Linked DNA regions of Homo sapiens. The protein of the gene in region 1 interacts with the protein of each later gene in a pairwise test. Each region holds a gene or a part of one and is shown on either strand. Other genes may lie near its edges.

The links.
Region 2: the proteins of SH3D19 (region 1) and SYNJ1 interact in a two-hybrid assay, tested with the Homo sapiens proteins (one large-scale study listed by BioGRID and IntAct).
Region 3: the proteins of SH3D19 (region 1) and SH3RF1 interact in a two-hybrid assay, tested with the Homo sapiens proteins (one large-scale study listed by BioGRID).

The regions. Positions count from the first base shown.
Region 1 is NC_000004.12:151,168,477-151,172,133, reverse strand, and holds part of SH3D19 (SH3 domain-containing protein 19), read left to right. Parts: exon of another isoform or gene 1-902; intron 903-2,562; exon of another isoform or gene 2,563-2,725; intron 2,726-3,657. UniProt on the Homo sapiens protein: May play a role in regulating A disintegrin and metalloproteases (ADAMs) in the signaling of EGFR-ligand shedding. May be involved in suppression of Ras-induced cellular transformation and Ras-mediated activation of ELK1.
Region 2 is NC_000021.9:32,631,043-32,634,074, reverse strand, and holds part of SYNJ1 (synaptojanin-1), read left to right. Parts: intron 1-2,254; coding exon of another isoform or gene 2,255-3,032. UniProt on the Homo sapiens protein: Phosphatase that acts on various phosphoinositides, including phosphatidylinositol 4-phosphate, phosphatidylinositol (4,5)-bisphosphate and phosphatidylinositol (3,4,5)-trisphosphate. Has a role in clathrin-mediated endocytosis.
Region 3 is NC_000004.12:169,260,863-169,264,519, reverse strand, and holds part of SH3RF1 (E3 ubiquitin-protein ligase SH3RF1), read left to right. Parts: intron 1-3,657. UniProt on the Homo sapiens protein: Has E3 ubiquitin-protein ligase activity. In the absence of an external substrate, it can catalyze self-ubiquitination. Stimulates ubiquitination of potassium channel KCNJ1, enhancing it's dynamin-dependent and clathrin-independent endocytosis.

The DNA.
Region 1 (3,657 bases):
ACACAGGAGAAAGAAGAGAAACTTACAAATAACTCTTCCCTTCCGTTTCTCTTACCTCAAAAATAAAGAAAATCTAATAAAATAGCATTCATAAAATGAAGTTGCCATATTAATCTCAGGAAATAGAGATCTGAAAATACTGAAGCTATGAAAACATTGTAAAGATTAGAAAAATTATTAAATAAAAACTCATAAAACAGGCAATTTAATATTGGATTCATTTCTTGGGTAGAATGCCTTCCAGGTTAATGTAATGGAGCCCAGAAGTATTAGCAATTCTTCTTCACACCTTTACAAATCATACCCAGTTGTCAAAAGAAGCAGAATGTTTCTGCCATCAGCCCCATTACACAGACCAGAATAATAGTTTAGCAGCCAATTTCTGCTATTAACAGAACTCAAGGGAAAGAAATGACAGAAAAGCAAGCCAGGGATGGTGAAACTAATTGTGATGACAAGCATATTATTAGAGACAGGTAATGGGCGGAAAACTACTTCATCATCAGTGTTTTTCTCAATCCAGTAATGAAGACCATGCGGATATAGGTGTAAAGAGGCCTCTGCTTGTTCACCAGCAGGTGTGGAATAATTGGTGCTGGTGTGAGGGGGTAGAGGGAAGACAGAATAAACATTGCAAATACAAGTAGACAAAAATGCCATCACTGCAAATAAAAGTAGACAAAAATGCCATTTTCTTGTCTTAGATTCAGATAGGAGATTCTTCTTAAGATGCTCCGTGTTTTTTGTTTTTTGTTTTTCTGTAGAAGCAAGAGCAGTCTGTGATAGAATTATGGCAGCAAGTTCTTAACCCTTTCCAGATTACCAAACTCTGAGAATCTGACATAGCCTGAGAGTCTTTTCTCTCCCTTGAAAATAGCCATTAATTCAGTGACTGTTTGGAGCTGTGAGGAAAAAAAAAAAAAGAAAATAGCCATTAGCTCATGTGTACACAATTCAAGGTACAATATCCAGAGCTTAGAGGGCCCATTTTGGGCTCTAGATTAAGGACTTCTACTACAGAATATTGGAAATAAATGTCAATGGACTGCTTAAATAAATTATAGTACATCCATAACAATGGAGTATTGTGTGATAATTAAAAGGGAGGGAGACCTATTATCCCCTACTTTGGACCAACCTCCAAGATATTATTAGGTGAAAAATGCAAGATACAGGATACTTTTTATGTTATTTTAGCTATTGTTTGTGTTAAATGTCAAATGCAATGTACAGTAATGTATGAAAAGGTGGTACAAAGTGTGTCTTTTATGAAGGAACTGGATAGGAGAGAACAGGGAACCTGGTTTTCACTGTATGCATTTTGCTCCCTTTTGAATTTCAGACCATGTGGAGGCATTACCTTTAACAAGAGAGTTAATCAATAATCTTTTTAAAAGAGCTGAACATAAGCATAATTAGGCTGAAAGAAACTGGGAGAATTATCTCTTGTCGTCTTTGCCACTTCTGAAGAACTGCTTCCCCCAATGACCCTCAGATTCTGATAAGTAAAAATTTTTAAAATAATAAAATAGTGATTTATCTAAATGGTTATATTATTCAAGGTTACAAATAGAAGCTACTTGTTATGAACTAAATATGCCTAAATTAGATAAATTCAAAATTTTATATCTGCATTATTTCCTTTTAAATTGAACCCCAGAAAAAGAGTTTTTATTTTTCTAGTTACTTTATGGAAAATTTTATGGCCATTATTGCCTTGAAAAAGCAACAAAAGAAACCAGAAGTTTCTTTTGTTCTCTTATTTTTAAGTGGTTTTGTTCTGGTTTGTTTGGCAGAGGTGTTAACTCAGCTTAATCTTGTAACTTTTTCCTTATGATTGAATTTATTTTATTGGATTTGTTTCTGTTAGAAAAGTAAAATATATTCGTTGTAACAAGTCAAACAATTCAGAGATTTTGGATTAAAAAAAAATGTAAACTCCCCACGGTAACCAATGTGAACAAAGTATGCAGCCTTCTGTGCCTTTGGGCATGCCAAACCAAAGCTTACACATATACACATAATGGACTTTTTCCAGAAATTTTTACCATACGATACCTGTTACTCAGCAGAGTGCTTTAAAAAACAATGACATTTATGACTTCTCTTCAGGATAATAGGTCTAATTCTAATTCATTTTCTCCTACTATGAGGTATCCTGCCTGATACCTCATAGTATATCATAGCTGGTTCAGTATTTCCCCTGTTGATGGACATTCAGGTTGTTTTGTTTGTTTTATTTAGTGGGGCAGGGGGATGTTGTTTTGTTTTGTTCCTTGTTGGTTTTTGCCACTACAAAAAATGCTGCAGTAAATACCCTCATAAGCATGTTCACTTCTGCTGATGCTTTTATTTCTGAAGAATAAATTTCTGAACGTGGGACTACTAGTCAAAGGTTATGATCTTTAAACATTTTAACTAGTACTAATGATCCAGTTTCTTACCTGGTGGTGTCTGGAGTACCCCAATATGAGGTGCCAGCCTTGCTTTATATGTTGCCCACTTATAACTTATGTTGGAAAAAATAGCCCTCTTAGGAAAAGACATAAAAAGTGAACTTACGTTGCTAGAGAGAAGCTTGCACACCATCATAAGATAAAAAACAGGCCTCTGGCTCCACCGTCTCATTGAAGTGATGCTGTTTATCCTCCCCACTAATCTGCACTCCTCACATGGATCACAGCCCAGACAACATGCAGACAGAGAGGCAGATGCAGAGCTCACTGACTCAGTGAGCACAGCTGGGGGAGATCATTAAACAGACCACTCCTGCCAAACAGCCTGCGGTGGTGGAACACGAAGACTTCCTTGCCTCGCCACATGGAGAAAGAATTTTTTTTTCCCGGAGACATGTATAGTAGAATAATTATACACTATCTGAGTGCCAGTTATTAAAAAACAGCTAACGGTATTAAAAATTAAAAAAATGAGAGAGTGAGTAAGCTAGGACACTTTGAATACTTCATAAGTTATACCTATGCTACTTCAATTTAAATCCTTCAGGTTAAAACAAAAAATGATTGGACCCTTTAACAGAATAGGTGAGATCTGCCCACACTGTGTGCAGGATTTGGGTCAGGATTTCCTGAGGCCATTCTTCCCACAGCAAGCACGTTTTGGATGCCCCCTATGTTCAGCCCCTCAGGGGTGCTGATTGTCCTCTTTTCTCCTTTCCCTGCCTGCCCCTACCCCCATCCATGCCCTCACTTGTGAAATGTGAGTGTGTAGGTCTTATACTGGCCCAGAATTTAATTTGATTTGGGAAACAATTTAAGTCATTACATGCTCAAGATTTTCTTCCCCCTTCACACCCACCCAAAAAGCATCATTGACTAAAATTTTAAACTAATAACCAACAGGGTATTGATACCAAAAGCAGCTGTTAAAGAAATAGCACTTCAGGCCAGGCACAGTGGCTCACACCTATAATCCCAGCACTTTGAGAGGCCAAGGTGGGAGGATCACTTGAGCCCAAGAGGTCAAGACCAGCCTGGACAACACAGTGAAACCTCATCTCTACAAAAAATAAAAATTAGCCAGGCATGGTGGCACATTCCTGTAGTACCAGATACTCAGGAGGCTGAGGTGGGAGGATTGCTTGAGCCCAGGAGGTTGAGGCTGCAATGAGTCGTGATTGCACCACTGCGCTCCAGCCTG
Region 2 (3,032 bases), on another chromosome or scaffold:
GCAGACGATTCTATCTGCCATAGGAGAATTTTGTCTCAGACAGAAGTATTTCATTTTGTATTAACTATAAATAGTCCAGAGATTTTTGGTAATATAGAGTTAATTTTATAATATCTATATAAATTTCCTTTTAAGTACATTTCCACATATAGGTCTACTTACCTAAGACATTTAGAGTACAGTTTAAAGTCTGTGACATGTTTTCTCTTTAGTTTTGTACAAATTTATCACACTAAGTTTGAAGAAAAATATACTGTTTCAACCAATTATAAAGCATATTCTAGGATAGTTGAATAAAACAGATACTTGAAAGTTATTCACTTAAGTCATCCATTTCCTTTTACAAGTGAACATCCTTCCATATTCTTAAGCAGTAACTAAGTGTTTCATAGTATGCAGTTACATTTTATTGAGACTGCTGCTGTTTTTTTCCAATATATTTCATGAAAGTATAGTTATGTTGCTTTAACAACTATCCAAATTCCTTTTGGGCAGTGCTCATTTTATTACATTGCCAGTCTTGAACTGAATTTTTTTTTGCCCTATCGTATCCAACCCTGAAGTTTTCTTAAGTTAGCATAAGTGTCCAAGTCATCTACCCTAGTTTTAAGAATTATATACATTTTTTTCAAAATTAATAATGTATGCCTGATAAGCTAATTTGCTTATGAGGCAAGAATCATAGTTCTTTTCCTTCATCCGATCATTTGTCTTTGCTCAGTCCCTTGGCTGTGCTCCACTCCAACCACCTTCTTTATGGAGTAGGGACCAAGGGATTTAGGGCAGGAGTGAAGGAATTCCAAGCACTCTTCCTACTGATAACAGTTCACAGCCAACTCTGTCACATAGAAGGGACCAGGCACCACTCTAGGCACATCATTGTGGTTGTAGACTTCATAAACCAAATAGAAAATGGAACTTTTTTTCCTCTGGTTTTAAGCAATGGTTGCATTTGGTTACTAATAGTGTATCTGTTTTGGAATATTTTTACAAGACAGGAGGGTCAATTTTTTTATGGAAAGTTGTCACATTACTCAGTTTTTGTTTTTTGTTTTTTGAGGCGGAGTTTTGCTCTTGCCCAAGCTGGAGTGCGGTGGTGCGATCTCAGCTCACTGCAACCTCTGCCTCCCAGGTTCAAGCAATTCTCCTTCCTCAGCCTCCTGAGTAGCTGGGATTATAGGCGCGCACCACCATGCCCAGCTAATTTTTTGTATTTTTAGTAGAGACAGGTTTCATTATGTTGGCCAGGCTGGTCTGGAACTCCTGACCTCAGGTGATCCACCTGCCTCAGCCTTACAAAGTGCAGGGATTATAGGCTTGAGCCACCGCGCCCAGCCTCACATTACTCAGTTTATTCAACAAAGGAGAGCTTACATTAAAAGTCAGCTGTGCCGGGCATGGTGGCTCACGCCTGTAATCCTGACACTTTGGGAGGCTAAGGTGGGCAGATTGCCTGCACTCAGGAGTTTGTGACCAGCCTGGGCAACATAGTGAAACCCCATCTGTACTAAAATACAAAAAATTAGCTAGACCTGGTGGCACACGCCTGTAGTCCCAGCTACTCAAGAGGCTGAGGCACAAGAATCACTTGAACCCGGGAGGTGGAGGTTGCAGTGAGCCAAAATCGTGCCATTGCACTCCAGCCTGGGTGACAGCACAAGACTTGGTCTCCAAAAAAAAAAAAAAGAGGGGGTGGGCAAAGAACTCTCAAAATTTATTTTTCCAAGTAGAAGACAGAAAGATGGAGTCTTCGTCTTAGGAATAAAATATGCTAATAGAATTAATTTTATCTATAAAATTGAATTTCCATAGTAACATTAATTTTAGAAAACACACTTAAAAGAACAATGAAACCACATCATCATCATAGATGGGTGTTAGAATTTTATTTATATAGATTTAGCATAAGTTATAAGTATGGATTTCTTAAGTTCATGCTGAAATGTGATAGAACTGGGCATGAACAAATTTGTTAATTCTGTACAATTCTCCTTCTTACCATTTCAAAACTTGCATGAATGAAATAAGCTCTTTGATTTTGAGGGATTTAAAAATGGATTTAATTAGAAAGGATTTATTTAGAAAGAAGTTTTTAAAGACTGTAGGTGTTTCATGTTATTTAAACCACCGGAGTAACAAACTACACAAAGCTACTTTTTAGTTTCTAAATTTACATGCTTGCCCCTAAAAGGGAAGAATAATTGAGACAGGAAGAATAGGGGGTATTAAGAGTAAATATAAACTGATTTTTCAGTGCTCCCTTTCTTTTGCAGGTAAAAACAAATGGAATCTCTGATGGCAAAAGAGAATCACCATTAAAGATTGACCCATTTGAAGATCTGTCATTTAATCTGCTTGCTGTATCAAAGGCTCAGCTATCTGTTCAAACGTCACCTGTTCCCACCCCAGACCCAAAGAGGTTGATTCAGTTGCCTTCTGCAACGCAAAGTAATGTTTTGAGTTCTGTAAGTTGCATGCCAACAATGCCTCCAATTCCAGCTCGGAGTCAATCCCAGGAAAATATGCGAAGTTCTCCAAACCCATTTATTACTGGCTTGACCAGGACAAATCCTTTCAGTGACAGGACTGCTGCTCCTGGAAACCCATTTAGAGCCAAGTCTGAAGAATCAGAGGCAACTTCATGGTTCTCCAAAGAAGAGCCCGTTACTATCAGTCCTTTCCCTTCTCTGCAGCCTCTTGGTCATAACAAAAGCAGGGCTTCATCTTCACTTGATGGCTTTAAGGACAGTTTTGATCTACAGGGCCAGTCTACATTAAAAATTAGCAACCCGAAAGGATGGGTAACCTTCGAGGAAGAAGAGGATTTTGGTGTGAAAGGGAAGTCAAAGTCAGCTTGTTCAGACTTACTGGGTAATCAGCCAAGTTCATTTTCTGGCTCCAACCTGACATTGAATGATGACTGGAATAAAGGTACAAATGTCTCCTTCTGTGTGTTGCCGTCAAGAAGACCTCCTCCACCTCCTGTCCCTCTGCTCCCGCCCGGCACCAGCCCTCCAGTAGATCCTTTCACG
Region 3 (3,657 bases), about 18 Mb from region 1:
CACAGTCATACCTCCTTTCTCCCTCTTTCCCTGTTGCTGACTGTTAGGGGCTGAATTATGTCCCCCAACATTGCTACGTTGAAGTTCTAACTCCTAGTACCTCACAATGTGGCCATATTTGGGGATAGGACCTTTAAAGAGGGGGTTAAGGTAAAATGAGGTCACATGCATGGGCCCTAATCCAGTAAGACCAGTGTTCTTATAAGAAGAGGAGATGAGGATGCAGACACATAGGGAAGACCATGTGAAGACACATGGAGAAGATGCCACTTACCAACCAAGGAGAGTTGCCTTCAAAGGAAGCCAACCCCACTGACACCTTGATCTTGGACTTCCAGCCTCCAGAACTGTGAGGAAATACATTTTTGTTGTTTAAGCCACCCAGTCTGTGCCCTTGGATGTAGTAGCCCTAGCCAACTTGTACTCTGACTGTAGACATACTCCTAAAGGTCAGCCCCTTGAGTGGCCTCTCGGTCCACTGCCAATCCCTTCAGTCCTGGTTTCCCCAGAAACTGGCAGTGGTCCAGCCTTCTGTGTTCTGTCATGGAATACCTTTGAGAAGTTGTTCAGCCCCTCCCTACTCCCTCAACTACCCACATTGCCTGGCATAATTTCTTAAAATAGACAGGCATGTTATAAGGAAGTTGAAGTTTATGTGACAGTATACCAGATGCACAGAAAGTTCTGGAGGAAATGAAGGAAATATTGAGAGGGGAAAACTACTACTTTCTTATCTCTGACAAATTGGATTGATCTGTAGCTGGAGTCTGGAGAGAGTGCTTTCCAGGACTCAGTAGTACCTAAGGCATTACTCAAGGGATAGGTAATGATGGACAAACCAGATACAGATCCTTACTTGGTGCTTTCCAGGGCTAAGTAGCACCCTAGTAAGGCATTCTAGGCTTTATTCCAAGGAATGGCATTGGCAGAAAGAATTGAAGGAAGTAGTGGGAGAAAGTTAGGACAACTGAGTTGCTCCAGGTTTGGTGTGGAAAGCAACTGCCAGCTGTGAACTGTGCCGTGGGACATCTTTGACATCCATCTATGAACAAGCACCTGTAGAGAGCTTTCAGGTCCAGTTATGTTCAATAATCTATACTAGGTCAAAGATGACATTAATGCATGTTTCTGTTGAAAAAGTTTACATTTGGGGGAGGTAACACACAAGAAACAACAAGTAAGGCAGCAGATAGTGAAGCATCAGGGGGTGGGATAAGATATAGAATAAGTCTCTATCTATGATGGGGTTCTTTTTTGTAGTTCGTGGTCCTTGGATTAAGTGCATGGTCAAAGAATACCAAGTGTGGACCAGAGTGGTTGGGACATGCTCCCCTGGCGTGTAAGGTTCACTACAAACACTGACGGACAAAGGAGTTGTTGTCTTCGCACAGATGGGGATGGGGATGTGTATTAACTCATACCGGACCCAAGCAAGACATTTAATGTGGTGGTTTGGATGAGGGAAATGTTTCTGTGTGTTTCAGAATGATTGAATTAAAACGGAAAAGGTGGGTTTTGTTTGTTTGTTTGTTTTGGCTAAACCATGTTTGTTGCATGCTTGACCTCTTATTTTATCCATCCTTGATCCTTACTCCAGGCTTCATGTCTGCCCCATCCCTGACCTTTACTTCATTCCTGAGCTAGGCTTGATGGTGAGACTCGGAGATGAGATCTTGAACAGGGTAGAAGGAAGGTATGGGAAAGGGGGTCTGTGGTGCATACTAATTGATAATTTTTTTAAAAAAGTAATGATTCTTTTTTATATCACATAAAGTGTCATGTAACCATAATCATGTAAACCTCACAACAGCTTTCTGGGGTCAAGTGTTATCATTTTATTTATTTATTTTTTTGAGACAGAGTCTCACTCTGTCACCCAGGCTGGAGGGCGATGGTGAGATCTCAGCTCACTGCAACCTCAGCCTCCTGGGTTCAAGCGATTCTCCCACCTCAGCCTCCCAAGTAGCTGGGATTACAGGCGCCTACCGCCATGCCTGGCTAATTTTTGTACTTTTAGTAGAGGTGGGTTTTCACCATGTTGGCCAGGCTGGTCTCCAACTCCTGACCTCAAGTGATCCACCCACCTTAGCCTCCCAAAGTGCTGGGATTACAGGCGTGAGCTGCGGCACCCAGCCTAAGTGTTATCATTTTTAAAATGAGAAAGAATGTAGATTTCAAAATGTATGTAAAAGCATTCTGGTTGTAAAAAAAAATTCAACCATATAGAAGAATATGTTATTAAGTGTGTATATACTTGCAGATCTTTTCATATACATTTATATGTGTATGCATATAGTTTCTTGATTTTTTGCAGAACTAGAATTTCATGCTCTGGAGATTCAATGATTTGCTAATTCATTTACTATATCTATGAAATCTCTTCATGTTTAAGCACATAGACCTACTCCAGTTTTTGAAAAAACTCTTTATTGATGTATAATATACACATAGAAAAGTGTACTAATTATGTGTACCATTCATTTAATTTTTCATAGTATTTTTCTCATAGTATTTTTACTCATAGAATTTTTCTTCATAGTATTTTTCTCATAGCATTTTTCTTTCTGTTTAAAAAATACTCAGTGTAAGAAAAATACTCATAGTATTTTTCTTTGTTTTAAGAATTAAAAATAATACATGCTTATGGTAAGAAATGTAATAGTAGAAGATGATGTAAAGGAGAAAATCAAGGCTTCCAATATCTCTACTCCTTTGTTCCTAATCTCTAGGGGTAACCACTGTCACAAGGTTTTTTTGTGTTTTCTTTCAGACAAAAAATTGAATAGAAATGGAATCACATTGTATATGCAGTTCTGCAACTTGTGGTTTTTAATTTAATGATAAAACTTGGATAGCTTCCGTATCTACTCACATTGATCTATAAGAAGCTATTATGCATTCTTTTTTTTTTTTTTGAGATGGTCTCACTTCTGCCCAGGTTGGAGTGCAGTTGGAGTGTTTACGGCTCACTATACATTATTATTCTTATTTCATGGATGTAGGAGGGGTGGCTGAAAGACTTTAAATAACTTGTCCAATTTCTGATCCCAAATGCTTCCTTCCCTTACCTGCAGTTGACTTAAGTGACAAACATTTTCCCTGGGACCTCATGTTGCTTTTAGCAGGGGAATCTTTTCTCAGTTGCAGCTGGCAGAGGTTATTCTTTCCTCACTGTCCTTGCTTCCTATTTTGTTTTGACAAAAAGAGGACAAATAAAGCTCCTTTACAATGACAGTGGACCAGGAAAGCAGACTCTCCTTAGCTTGATGTATGGGGAAGAGTGTGGTTTGGAGGTCAGAAGTTGTGGCCTCTGGTTCCAACACTGCCATGGGCTGGCTGTGGGGTTTCTCTGGGCTTCATTTCTTCAGCTCAAAGATGCGGAGCCATAGGGACCTAAGCTCCATGCAGAGTGGTTGTGGGAATGGGGCTGGTGAGGGGGCTGAGTTTGGTCCATCTTTGACTTTTCAGAGCCCTTTGTAGTGTCTGGCACAGAGTACACACTCACAAGAGGTTTGTTGAATAAATGAGTGAATAAGTGAGTGGAGTACCAACCTCTCTAGGGATCCTTAGCTGTATATTTAATTTCATTTCTATTTGGGATGATGAGAACCAAAGTTACTGAAAAGATACCGAAAAGATTATAAAGTGGATGTAGTG